Linked DNA regions of Homo sapiens. The protein of the gene in region 1 purifies or fractionates together with the protein of each later gene. This does not show direct contact. Each region holds a gene or a part of one and is shown in the gene's direction. Other genes may lie near its edges.

The links. Proteins that work in one complex are often made in the same cells at the same time.
Region 2: the proteins of CCNC (region 1) and SPEN purify together in Homo sapiens (affinity purification with mass spectrometry; 4 studies listed by BioGRID and IntAct, with this or other methods). This does not show direct contact.

The regions. Positions count from the first base shown.
Region 1 is NC_000006.12:99,551,646-99,558,671, reverse strand, and holds part of CCNC (cyclin-C), read left to right. Parts: intron 1-123; coding exon 124-175; intron 176-4,870; exon of another isoform or gene 4,871-6,776; coding exon 6,777-6,832; exon of another isoform or gene 6,833-7,026. UniProt on the Homo sapiens protein: Component of the Mediator complex, a coactivator involved in regulated gene transcription of nearly all RNA polymerase II-dependent genes.
Region 2 is NC_000001.11:15,927,686-15,934,711, forward strand, and holds part of SPEN (msx2-interacting protein), read left to right. Parts: intron 1-405; coding exon 406-7,026. UniProt on the Homo sapiens protein: May serve as a nuclear matrix platform that organizes and integrates transcriptional responses. In osteoblasts, supports transcription activation: synergizes with RUNX2 to enhance FGFR2-mediated activation of the osteocalcin FGF-responsive element (OCFRE).

The DNA.
Region 1 (7,026 bases):
TCACACCTCAAGTAGTTAGAAGGTGAACAGATTGTAAACAGGAGCAAGGAAATCCTGTTTTGAATAGAGTTCAGATACCCTTAGATTCATTGGGTTAACATGTACCTGCTTTTCTTTCTTTAGGAATTTGGAGTAGTTTCAAATACAAGATTGATTGCTGCTGCTACTTCTGTATGTAAGTGCAAAAAGTATATCTGCTTTAAGGATGTAATTCTAAAGAAAGCTCCAGAGTACATAGATTTTTTTTTTTTTAGTTTATGAGACATATGAGATTGGTTGGCTTTATTAAATTTCCTGAGGATAACTTTATATCTAGTGTATCTGGCAAAAAAATCAAGCTAAAAGGTTTTTTTTTAAAAAGATATAAAGATATTACTTTTAATGTTAAAATGGATAGTAATTATCAATCCAAAAACATCAACTCAGTGGCTTTTAATCTTGTAAGAGTAAAGAAAAAATTCTGTTTCCGAATTTTATTGTATTTTATTGTTTTCTAATGACTATTATGTCATTCTTATGGGTAGATATTAATATCTATGTGCAAACCCGTTCCTGTGTTGTTGGGTTGTTATGAGGACCAAATGAGTTAATATAAGCTTTTAGAACAGTGCCTTGCTTAGTATGTTACTTTGCTGAGGCTGCCATAACAAAATGCCACAGAACAGGTGGCTTAAACAACAGAAGCGTATTTTCTCACAGTTTTAGAGCATGGAAATCCAAGATCAAGGTGTCTGGCTATTCTTACATGGACCTTTCTGTGAGCACACACACTCCTGGTTTGCTGTCTTCTTCATGTGAGGACAATAGTCTTACAGAATTAGGCCCCACTCTTATGTCCTCATTTAATCTTTTTTTTTTCTTTCTTTTTTTTTTTTTTTTTTTTGAGACAGAGTCTCGCTCTGTCGCCCAGGCTGGAGTGCTCACTTCAACTTCCGCCTCCTGGGTTCAAGTGATTCTCCTGCCTCAGCCTCCTGAGTACCTGGGACTACAGGCATGTGCCACCATGCCCAGCTCATTTTTGTATTTTTTAGTAGAGACGGGGTTTCACCATGTTGGCCAGACTAGTCTCAAACTCCTGATCTCGTGATCCGCTAGCCTCGGCCTCCCAACGTGCTGGGATTATAGGTGTGAGCCACCATGTCTGGCCTGTCCTCATTTAATCTTATCCCTTTAAAGACCCTCTCTCCAAATACAGTCACATTCTGAGGTACTAGGAGTTAGGGCTTCAACATACGAATTTTGGAGGGGGACATATATTGGTCCACAATACTTGGTAAACTTTAGGGGCTATCATCATCATCATCATCTTCAATGACAACAACATCATTATCACTGGAAAACACTGTGCCAATGCAGTGGCATTGGTACCAAGGTAAAATACAAGGAATTTAAGGACAAAAAAAGAAGACAGAAACATAAAAATATTAATACAGAAGGAAATAAATAGTATAAGAGAGTTACAGAGAATGCTGTGAATGTTTTGGGTGGGAAAAGATTGTTTCATGAATCCAGAAAGGATTAAGTAGAACTTGGTGAAGGAAGTTGAACTGGGGAAATGCAAGAGATAGACAGTCTAAGAACACTGAATAGTTTAGTCAAATAGGGAAAGCTCATGAGTTAGATTAACTGAATGGTGAGTAAGGAAATAGTGGGGAAAACTCCTTACCTAATTTCAGCTAATAGAGGGCCTTCGATGCTAAATGAAGGAATCTGCACTTTGTTCTATTGACAGTAATGAAAGTTAGTTATTTGAGATGGAGTCTCGCTCAGCCGCCCAGGCTGGAGTGCAGTGGCACGATCTTGGCTCACTGCAACCTCTGCCTCCCAGGTTCAAGCGATTCTCCTGCCTCATCCTCCCTGGTAGCTGGGATTACAGGTGTGTGCCACCACGCCGGGCTAATTTTTGTATTTTTAGTAGAGATGGGGTTTCAACATTTTGGCCAGGCTGGTTTTAAACTCCTCACCTCAGGCCTCCCAAAGTGCTGAGATTACAGGCGTGAGCCACTGCACCTGGCCAGTTTTATTTATTTTTACACATGAGGGTAATGCCAGCATTGTGCATTAGGAAGGTAAATCTGACCCACCTCAGCCTCCCAAAGTGCTGAGATTACAGGCGTGAGCCACTGTGCCTGGCCAGTTTTATTTATTTTCACACATGAGGGTAATGCTAGCATTGTGCATTAGGAAGGTAAATCTGACAGAATTATGTAAGATGAATTGGAGGAGAGGGCAGGTAGAATTAGACAAATTTTGAAGTTATTTACATCCCACAACATGGATGAACCTTGAGGACATTATGGTAAGTGAAATAAGCCAGTAACAAAGACAAATATTGTGTGATTACACTTACATGGAATACTTAGTCAAATTAATAAAGATAGAAAGTAGAATGGTAGGGCTGGAGGAAGGGTGGTATAGGGAGTGATTAATGGATACAGAGTTTCAGTTTTGCAAAAATTTTGTATATCTTAACACAATTTAAAAACAAAAACCTTCTGAAATACAGTAAAACTGCAAACTGTATTGAGTGCTGTCACTTACCACAGGGTGCTATGAGAAATAAAACCTAACAAGTTTAAAGTGGAAAAAATAATTTTTAAGTTGCTGAAGTCATCCCAGTGAACACTAATGAAGGCTTAAACGAATATTGGCAGCCAGCAAGAAGAACAAACAAGCCAGATTTGAGCGATAGAGTCAGCAGTTCTTATAAAAAGAAGGGATTTAAGAAGAGTCAGAAATGTGTTTTGAGGTTTTTTTGCCTGGGGGTTGGGGAGCTGAAGCTGGTACTGAAAAAGAGAATAAGTGAGTTCTGAAAAGAATTAAATTTAATCTTTGACATTCTAAGTATAAATATGTTAGTAGAACATCCTCTTAAAAATGTGAGGCCAGCAGTAGAAATTTGGAATTTGATAACATTTAAGAGTTGCACAGGCCAGGTATGGTGGTTCCTGCTTATAATCCGAACACTTTGGGAGGCTGGAGCAGGAGGATTGCTTTAGAACAGGAGTTCAAGACCAGCCTGGACAACATAGCAAGATTCCAGCTCTGCAAAAAATTAAAGAAAAACTAACTGGGCATGGTGGCACACACCTGTAGTCCTAGCTACTCAACTAGGCTGAAGTGGGAGGGTTGCCTAAGCCCAGGAGTTCAAGGCTGCAGTAAACTGTGATTATGCCACTGCACTCCAGCCTGGGCAATGGAGTAAGACTCTGTCCCTAAAAATTAAAAAAAAAAAGAGTTCCACAATGTCTTATGCTGCATAGAAAAAGATGTGAACCAAAGAAAAAAACATCTTTGAGAGAGAACATAGTGTCATTAACAATGTGGGGGTGGAGGTAGAAGCCAGATTGCAAGGAATTAAGAAGCAAGTAGGTGCTGAGAAAGGAATAGTCTAACTATATTAAAAATATATGAAACAACTTCAGTGAAGGGAATTGGGGGAAAGGTGTTGACATAAGTAGCTTTGGAAATGATTAAGAGTGTAAGAGTAAAGGCAAAAGGAACTACACATAAGCACTGTACTCTAGTTGATAAAGTTATTACCCATGGGTGTACAAGTTAACAATTCTGATAATGCTATACATGTATATGGGAATTAAACAATTACGTAAATCAATAGCAAATGTTTGAGAGCCGGGTTTCTCATTGTTGGAGCGGGAATTTACAGATAAGCAAAGGGCTGGAAACAGCATGAACTCGTGTACCTTAATACAATATAGATGGTTAGTTACATATAGAAATATTTATAGATAAGTGTATATACATGGGTTAGTGTGTGTATTTCTTGGCTTTCTCAGCTGAAAGGGTCTATAAGCAATGACATCCCAGTAGCAATGAGCTCACCTAGTACCCATATCTTGGTTTCTAATATCATTCTCCAATAAAAGGTACCAGGGCTCCTTGGAGAAATGGTTGATTCTAGGACTGGGGCAAGAAATACACAAGATGGACCTGGACCATCTCTTAATGCCAGTAATAAAGAAGTATTCAAAACAAACAAGAAAAACAAAAACGTCTATTGATGAGGATATGTCAAAAGGATATAGGAGCTAACTAAGAGAGCTCCCACTGACCAAAGCTGAAAGAATTTGAGCATCAAAATTTTAAAAATAGCATTGGATAATAACTCAAAGTATAAACTAAATATCCATGAGTCCATACTGATATAAATAAATGAGGGAGAAGAGACATGTCTTCCATGCTGAAGAATTCCAAATAATATATGTAACTATTCTGCCCTCAAGTAGAGGGAGCATAACTCCCCACTCCTAAGGTGCTGGCTATACATGTTAACTTCCTGCTAGTGTGTACATATGGAAAGGGAGGAAAAAGGTAACTTTACAGTGGGGAAACCTGAGAAATACTGCCTTAGCCAGGCGATCAAGGTCAGTAGCAACAGTGATAAATCACATTAATATCATGTATCATTGATGTGATATGATGAAGATGGTACTTTATCTCGGTGGTCTTCCTGTCAAAAACCCATTTTCTCTAGTCTAATGAGAAAAACATCAGACAAATTCCAGTAGAGGGGCATTTGACAAAATACTTGACTGGTACTCCTAAAAACTGTCAAAGTCATCAAAAACAAGGAAAGGCTAGAAAACTGTCACAGCCAAACAGTCTAAGGAAACATGACAAATAAATATAATGTGGTATCCTAGATAAGACCCTAGGATAGAAAAAGGACATTGGTACAAACTAAGGAGATCTGAAAAAAGTACAGTTTAGTTAATAATAACATTTCAATATTGGGTCAGTAATTGTAACAAATGCGCCATACTAATGTAAGATGTTAATAGTAGGGGAAGCTGGGTGAAGGCATGTCTTAGTCCACTTGGGCTAATATAAGAAAGTACCATAGACTGGGTGGCTTTCACAACAGACATTTATTTCTCACAGTTCTGGAGGCTGGGAAGTCAATAACGGTGGGTATAAGAGAACTGTGCATGATCTCAGTGTTTGAGTCTACAAAAATAAAAGGCAGAGGAATATAATTAGGTAGAGTTTGTTTTGCTTTTTTCAAGGGAAATTTGAGCATATTAGTATGTGATGGAAGATTTACTGAAGGAGGAAGGTTAAAGATGAAAAAAATAGCAGGAGTTATCAATTGAATAGATGATAATAAGTGTATAAGTGGTAAGACAAACAATAGAGAGGAGGGATGTATTTTTCTCCAAGTTGGAGGAAAAGGATTAAAAGACAGAAAAAAATGCAGAGCAGTTTTAGCATGGAGTAACAGACATGTGACAGTATCAGGTAAATATATTCTCAATAGAGGTGTTAGGTGTCAAGGTCCAGGGGATGGGGATGTAGATTTGTTTTATATACAGAGATAATTTTACTTTGTTGATTGTCTACCATTATATAAGAACCTGTTGTGCTGGTATACTTTACATCACAAGGATTTGTAAAACTCAGAAACCTTAATAGGTACGTCTTAAATTTAAATAAAGGAGAGAAGAAAGGAAAGATTATAAATTTACTAATGTCAAGTTTAAATTATTCTAGGTTTCAAATCCTGGCAGATATTACACATCTAAATTAGCTGTAGGGCACTGAATTTGCAAAACAAATCTTTTTGAAAACATAGTGCATAGAAGAAATGGAATTTCTTTCTTTTTTTTTTTTTGAGATGGAGTCTCACTGTCACCCAGACTGGAGTGCAGTGGTGTGTTCTCAGCTCACTGCACCCTCTGCCTCCCGGGTTCAAGGGATTCTCCTGCCTCGGCCTCCCGAGTAGCCGGGACTACAGGTGCATGCCACTACACTCGCCTAATTTTTGTATTTTTAGTAGAGATGGGGTTTCACCATGTTGTCCAGGAGGTCTCGAACTCCTGACCTCAGGTGATCCACCCACCTTGGCCTCCCAAAGTGCTGGGATTACAGGCATGAGCCACTGTGCCTGGCCAGAAATGGAATTTCTTTTAATTTCAGTGAAATCACTTGGGCTTTGTACAAATGGAAGCTGACACTAAACATTTTTTAGGACCTGTCAGTAGTTACTTGGTTGAATTAAATGTGTCATAATGGCTTGAATACAGTTTCTCAAATAGTACTTATGTGTATATGCTCACACCATTTTAAGGAGATGGGGGATTGATGGTTAACATTTTTTTTTCATTTGTACTTTATTTAGTGACTAACCAATAAAGTAATAGATAATAGAGTACTAACTTTATGTGTTACTACTACTACTTTATGAGTAACTCGAGACCTTTGCATATATATTAATGCTTTTATTAAAATATATATTTTGATAAATACCTGGTCATTGTAAAAAGTTTAGAAAGTGCAGATTAGTAAAAAGTTCTTAAATCTCACAAATAACCACTGTTAACATTTTTTTGGTGTACTATCCTCCCAATATTTTATATGTATATTTTTTACCAATTGTATATATTGTAAACACATATGTAACCCCTGTGTTCCTTCTAAGCTCAGTCACTGGAAAACAGAAGAATACCATTCTGTAGCTGAAAAGATTTTAGAAATGATAAAAGCCAGTGATTTTTTTTTCCTGATCTTTTTCTTTTTTAAACATCAGAATCCTTTCTTAAGGTAGTAAATATAAAATTGAAGCTGTGTAGAGTGTCCTGCCCCCCAGTCTTTCCCCTTCCCTGAAAGTAAATAAAAATCTGCGTCCGTAAGTGTTGCCAAGAATTCCTACTGAAAATAATTTTGCTCTACCCTCTAATATTCTGCTCTGTTAAAGGAATTTTGAGTTAATTTATTTCCCATTTTCTCAGTTTAAATTTTTTTTTTATTTTCTGCAGTAAAAACTAGATTTTCATATGCCTTTCCAAAGGAATTTCCTTATAGGATGAATCATGTAAGTATATGATATAAAATGGAACAATTATCAAAGCTATATATAAACTAGCTCTATTTTATATTAGACTAAATTTAATAGTTTCCTAGAAATGGCAGTTTCAAATATTACATAAATACAGACATTATTCTAAATTAAAGCTAAATAGCTTTTACCATTTAAAAAAAATACTTCATAGTGGCGATTATCAACCC
Region 2 (7,026 bases), on another chromosome or scaffold:
AGGGTTGAATCACCACTGCCCAATAGAAGCATAATGTAAGTTATATAAATTCTGTATATGTAATTTTAAATTTTCTAGTAGCCACATTAAAAAGACAAAGTGAAATTTTCTTTAATATATCTAAAACGTTGTTTCAACATATAATCAGTCTAAATTGTTGTTTTTCTATAAACTAGGTCTACAAAATTGGCTGTGTATTTTACACATCTCAATTTAGCTAGATTTCAAGTGCCTAGTAGCTACTTGAAGCTATAGTGGATAGCTACTACAAACTAATCATTTCACAAATGATTAAATAATGTCAAAAGATTTTTTAGAAGCAGGAATTTCTGATTTCATATGTATGATTTTATGCATAAGTGATGAGGAAACAAAAGAACTAATATCTTTGTTATTTTTTGGCAGAGAGGAACGAAGGGCATCCTACGACTATAACCAAGATCGTACATATTATGAGAGTGTTCGAACTCCAGGCACTTATCCTGAGGATTCCAGGCGGGACTATCCAGCTCGAGGGAGAGAGTTTTATTCAGAATGGGAAACTTACCAAGGAGACTACTATGAATCACGATACTACGATGATCCTCGGGAATACAGGGATTACAGGAATGATCCTTATGAACAAGATATTAGGGAATATAGTTACAGGCAAAGGGAACGAGAAAGAGAACGTGAAAGATTTGAGTCTGACCGGGACAGAGACCATGAGAGGAGGCCGATTGAACGAAGTCAAAGTCCTGTTCACTTGCGACGTCCACAGAGTCCTGGAGCGTCTCCCTCTCAGGCAGAGAGGTTGCCGAGTGATTCTGAGAGGAGGCTTTACAGCCGATCCTCAGACCGGAGTGGAAGCTGTAGCTCACTCTCCCCTCCAAGATATGAGAAACTGGACAAGTCTCGTTTGGAGCGCTATACAAAAAATGAAAAGACAGATAAAGAACGAACTTTTGATCCGGAGAGAGTGGAGAGAGAGAGACGCTTAATACGGAAGGAAAAAGTGGAAAAGGACAAAACTGACAAGCAGAAACGCAAAGGAAAGGTTCACTCCCCTAGTTCTCAGTCTTCAGAAACGGACCAAGAAAATGAGCGAGAGCAAAGCCCTGAAAAGCCCAGGAGTTGTAATAAACTGAGCAGAGAGAAAGCTGACAAAGAGGGAATAGCGAAAAACCGCCTGGAACTCATGCCTTGCGTGGTTTTGACTCGAGTGAAAGAGAAAGAGGGAAAGGTCATTGACCACACTCCTGTGGAAAAGTTGAAAGCCAAGCTTGATAATGACACTGTCAAATCTTCTGCCCTGGACCAGAAACTTCAGGTCTCTCAGACGGAGCCTGCAAAATCTGACTTGTCTAAACTGGAATCAGTTAGAATGAAAGTACCAAAGGAAAAGGGGCTTTCAAGCCATGTTGAAGTGGTGGAGAAGGAAGGCAGGCTTAAAGCCAGGAAGCACCTCAAGCCTGAGCAGCCTGCAGATGGGGTAAGTGCTGTGGATCTGGAGAAGCTGGAAGCCAGGAAAAGGCGCTTTGCAGATTCCAATTTAAAAGCAGAAAAGCAAAAACCAGAGGTCAAGAAAAGCAGTCCAGAGATGGAGGATGCTCGCGTGCTTTCAAAAAAGCAGCCTGACGTGTCCTCTAGAGAGGTCATTCTGCTGAGGGAAGGAGAGGCTGAAAGAAAGCCTGTGAGGAAAGAAATTCTTAAAAGAGAATCTAAAAAAATCAAACTGGACAGACTTAATACTGTTGCCAGCCCCAAAGACTGTCAGGAGCTTGCCAGTATTTCTGTTGGGTCTGGCTCAAGGCCCAGCTCAGACCTACAAGCAAGACTGGGAGAACTAGCAGGTGAATCTGTGGAAAATCAAGAAGTCCAATCAAAAAAGCCCATTCCCTCAAAACCACAGCTCAAACAGCTGCAGGTATTAGATGATCAAGGACCAGAGAGAGAAGACGTTAGGAAAAACTATTGCAGTCTTCGTGATGAAACACCTGAACGTAAATCAGGCCAAGAGAAATCACATTCAGTAAATACTGAAGAAAAAATTGGCATTGACATCGATCACACGCAGAGTTACCGAAAACAAATGGAACAGAGTCGTAGGAAACAGCAGATGGAAATGGAAATAGCCAAGTCTGAGAAGTTTGGCAGTCCTAAAAAAGATGTAGATGAATATGAAAGACGTAGCCTCGTTCACGAGGTAGGCAAACCCCCTCAAGATGTCACTGATGACTCTCCTCCTAGCAAAAAGAAAAGGATGGATCATGTCGATTTTGATATCTGCACCAAGCGAGAACGGAATTACAGAAGTTCACGCCAAATCAGCGAAGATTCTGAAAGGACTGGTGGTTCTCCCAGTGTCCGACATGGTTCCTTCCATGAAGATGAGGATCCCATAGGCTCCCCTAGGCTACTGTCAGTAAAAGGGTCTCCTAAAGTAGATGAAAAAGTCCTCCCCTATTCTAACATAACAGTCAGGGAAGAGTCTTTAAAATTTAATCCTTATGATTCTAGCAGGAGAGAACAGATGGCAGATATGGCCAAAATAAAACTATCTGTCTTGAATTCTGAAGATGAACTAAATCGTTGGGACTCTCAGATGAAACAGGATGCTGGCAGATTTGATGTGAGTTTCCCAAACAGCATAATTAAGAGAGATAGCCTTCGAAAAAGGTCTGTACGAGATCTGGAACCTGGTGAGGTGCCTTCTGATTCTGACGAAGATGGTGAACACAAATCCCACTCACCCAGAGCCTCTGCATTATATGAAAGTTCTCGATTGTCTTTTTTATTGAGGGACAGAGAAGACAAGCTACGTGAGCGAGATGAAAGACTCTCTAGTTCTTTAGAAAGGAACAAATTTTACTCTTTTGCATTGGATAAGACAATCACACCAGACACTAAAGCTTTGCTTGAAAGAGCTAAATCCCTCTCTTCATCTCGTGAAGAAAATTGGTCTTTTCTTGATTGGGACTCCCGATTTGCAAATTTTCGAAACAACAAAGATAAAGAAAAGGTTGACTCTGCTCCAAGACCTATTCCATCCTGGTACATGAAAAAGAAGAAAATTAGGACTGATTCAGAAGGGAAAATGGATGATAAGAAAGAGGACCATAAAGAAGAAGAGCAAGAGAGGCAGGAATTGTTTGCTTCTCGTTTTTTACACAGCTCAATCTTTGAACAAGATTCCAAGCGATTGCAGCATCTAGAGAGAAAAGAGGAAGATTCTGACTTCATTTCTGGTAGGATCTATGGGAAGCAGACATCTGAGGGAGCAAACAGCACAACTGATTCCATTCAAGAACCAGTAGTTCTGTTCCATAGCAGATTTATGGAGCTCACACGGATGCAACAGAAAGAAAAAGAAAAAGACCAGAAACCCAAAGAGGTTGAGAAACAGGAAGATACAGAGAATCATCCCAAGACCCCAGAATCTGCTCCTGAGAATAAAGATTCAGAACTGAAAACTCCACCTTCCGTTGGGCCTCCAAGTGTCACAGTCGTAACTCTAGAATCAGCCCCATCAGCACTAGAGAAGACCACTGGTGACAAAACGGTAGAGGCGCCTTTGGTAACAGAAGAGAAGACTGTGGAGCCAGCTACCGTCTCAGAAGAAGCAAAGCCTGCATCTGAACCTGCTCCTGCCCCTGTGGAACAGCTGGAACAAGTAGACCTGCCCCCAGGAGCAGACCCCGATAAAGAAGCTGCCATGATGCCTGCGGGTGTTGAGGAAGGTTCATCAGGTGACCAGCCGCCTTATCTGGATGCCAAGCCTCCAACTCCCGGGGCCTCGTTTTCCCAGGCAGAGAGCAACGTAGATCCAGAGCCTGACAGTACCCAGCCACTTTCAAAACCAGCTCAGAAGTCTGAGGAAGCCAATGAGCCAAAGGCCGAAAAGCCAGACGCCACTGCAGATGCTGAGCCTGATGCAAACCAGAAAGCCGAAGCTGCTCCTGAGTCTCAGCCCCCAGCTTCTGAAGATTTAGAGGTTGATCCTCCAGTTGCTGCAAAGGATAAAAAGCCAAACAAAAGCAAGCGTTCAAAGACCCCTGTTCAGGCAGCTGCAGTGAGTATCGTGGAGAAGCCCGTCACAAGGAAGAGTGAGAGGATAGACCGGGAAAAACTCAAGCGGTCCAATTCTCCTCGGGGAGAAGCACAGAAGCTTTTGGAATTGAAGATGGAGGCAGAGAAGATTACAAGGACTGCTTCTAAAAACTCTGCTGCAGACCTTGAACATCCCGAACCAAGTTTGCCTCTCAGCCGAACAAGGCGCCGGAATGTAAGGAGCGTCTATGCAACCATGGGTGACCATGAAAACCGCTCTCCTGTCAAAGAGCCCGTTGAGCAACCAAGAGTGACCAGAAAGAGATTGGAGCGAGAGCTTCAGGAGGCTGCAGCGGTTCCCACCACCCCTCGGAGGGGAAGGCCTCCAAAGACACGCCGGCGAGCCGATGAAGAGGAGGAGAACGAGGCCAAGGAACCTGCAGAAACACTCAAGCCACCTGAGGGATGGCGGTCGCCAAGGTCCCAGAAAACTGCAGCTGGTGGTGGACCCCAAGGGAAAAAGGGAAAAAATGAACCGAAGGTGGATGCTACACGTCCTGAGGCCACCACTGAGGTGGGCCCCCAAATAGGCGTGAAAGAGAGCTCCATGGAACCCAAGGCTGCTGAGGAGGAGGCAGGGAGTGAACAGAAACGTGACAGAAAAGATGCTGGCACAGACAAAAACCCCCCTGAAACCGCCCCTGTTGAAGTTGTAGAGAAAAAACCGGCCCCTGAAAAAAACTCCAAATCAAAGAGAGGAAGATCTCGAAACTCCAGGTTAGCAGTGGACAAATCTGCAAGTCTGAAAAATGTGGATGCTGCTGTCAGTCCCAGGGGGGCTGCAGCACAGGCAGGGGAGAGGGAATCTGGGGTGGTGGCAGTCTCCCCTGAGAAAAGTGAGAGTCCCCAAAAGGAGGATGGTTTATCATCCCAGTTGAAAAGTGATCCAGTTGATCCAGACAAGGAACCAGAGAAAGAAGACGTGTCTGCCTCTGGGCCGTCCCCAGAAGCCACCCAGTTAGCCAAGCAGATGGAGCTGGAGCAGGCCGTGGAACACATCGCAAAGCTCGCTGAGGCCTCTGCCTCTGCTGCCTATAAGGCAGATGCACCAGAGGGCCTTGCCCCAGAGGACAGGGACAAGCCTGCACACCAAGCAAGTGAAACAGAGCTGGCTGCGGCCATCGGCTCCATCATCAATGACATTTCTGGGGAGCCAGAAAACTTCCCAGCACCTCCACCTTATCCTGGAGAATCCCAGACAGATCTGCAACCCCCCGCAGGTGCACAGGCGCTGCAGCCTTCTGAGGAAGGAATGGAGACAGATGAGGCTGTATCTGGCATCCTGGAAACTGAGGCTGCTACAGAATCTTCTAGGCCTCCAGTCAATGCTCCTGACCCCTCAGCCGGCCCAACAGATACCAAGGAAGCCAGAGGAAATAGCAGTGAAACCTCACACTCAGTGCCAGAAGCCAAAGGGTCTAAAGAAGTGGAAGTCACTCTTGTTCGGAAAGACAAAGGGCGCCAGAAAACAACCCGATCACGCCGCAAGCGAAACACAAACAAGAAAGTGGTGGCTCCTGTAGAGAGCCATGTCCCTGAATCCAACCAAGCTCAAGGTGAGAGTCCTGCTGCAAATGAGGGGACAACAGTACAGCACCCCGAAGCCCCACAGGAAGAAAAGCAGAGTGAGAAACCCCATTCCACTCCTCCTCAGTCATGTACTTCTGACCTAAGCAAGATTCCCTCCACAGAGAATTCGTCCCAAGAAATCAGTGTTGAGGAAAGGACTCCAACCAAAGCATCTGTGCCCCCAGACCTTCCCCCACCTCCCCAGCCAGCACCGGTGGATGAGGAGCCTCAAGCCAGGTTCAGGGTGCATTCCATCATTGAAAGTGACCCGGTGACCCCACCCAGCGATCCAAGCATCCCCATACCCACACTGCCTTCTGTAACTGCAGCAAAGCTCTCACCTCCTGTCGCCTCTGGGGGGATCCCACACCAGAGCCCCCCTACTAAGGTGACAGAGTGGATCACAAGGCAGGAGGAGCCACGGGCTCAGTCTACTCCATCTCCAGCTCTTCCCCCAGACACAAAGGCCTCTGATGTTGACACCAGCTCCAGCACCCTGAGGAAGATTCTCATGGACCCCAAGTATGTGTCTGCCACAAGTGTCACTTCCACAAGTGTCACCACAGCCATTGCAGAGCCTGTCAGTGCTGCCCCTTGCCTACATGAGGCCCCGCCCCCGCCAGTTGACTCTAAAAAGCCTTTAGAAGAAAAAACAGCACCTCCAGTGACAAACAACTCTGAGATACAAGCCTCGGAGGTGCTGGTAGCTGCTGACAAGGAAAAGGTGGCTCCAGTCATTGCTCCCAAAATTACCTCTGTTATTAGCCGGATGCCTGTCAGCATTGACCTGGAAAATTCACAGAAGATAACCTTGGCAAAACCAGCTCCTCAAACCCTCACTGGTCTGGTGAGCGCACTCACTGGCCTGGTGAACGTCTCCCTGGTCCCGGTGAATGCCCTGAAAGGCCCCGTGAAGGGCTCAGTGACCACACTGAAAAGTTTGGTGAGCACCCCTGCTGGGCCCGTGAACGTCCTGAAAGGGCCTGTGAATGTTCTTACGGGGCCAGTGAATGTTCTCACCACTCCAGTGAACGCCACGGTGGGCACAGTGAATGCCGCCCCAGGCACAGTCAATGCCGCTGCGAGTGCAGTGAATGCCACAGCAAGTGCAGTGACCGTCACAGCGGGTGCGGTTACTGCTGCATCTGGTGGTGTAACGGCCACAACAGGCACGGTGACAATGGCAGGGGCAGTGATTGCGCCGTCAACAAAGTGCAAACAGAGAGCGAGTGCTAATGAAAACAGTCGGTTCCACCCAGGGTCCATGCCTGTGATCGACGATCGTCCGGCAGACGCGGGCTCAGGGGCGGGGCTGCGTGTGAACACTTCTGAAGGGGTTGTGCTCCTGAGTTACTCAGGGCAGAAGAC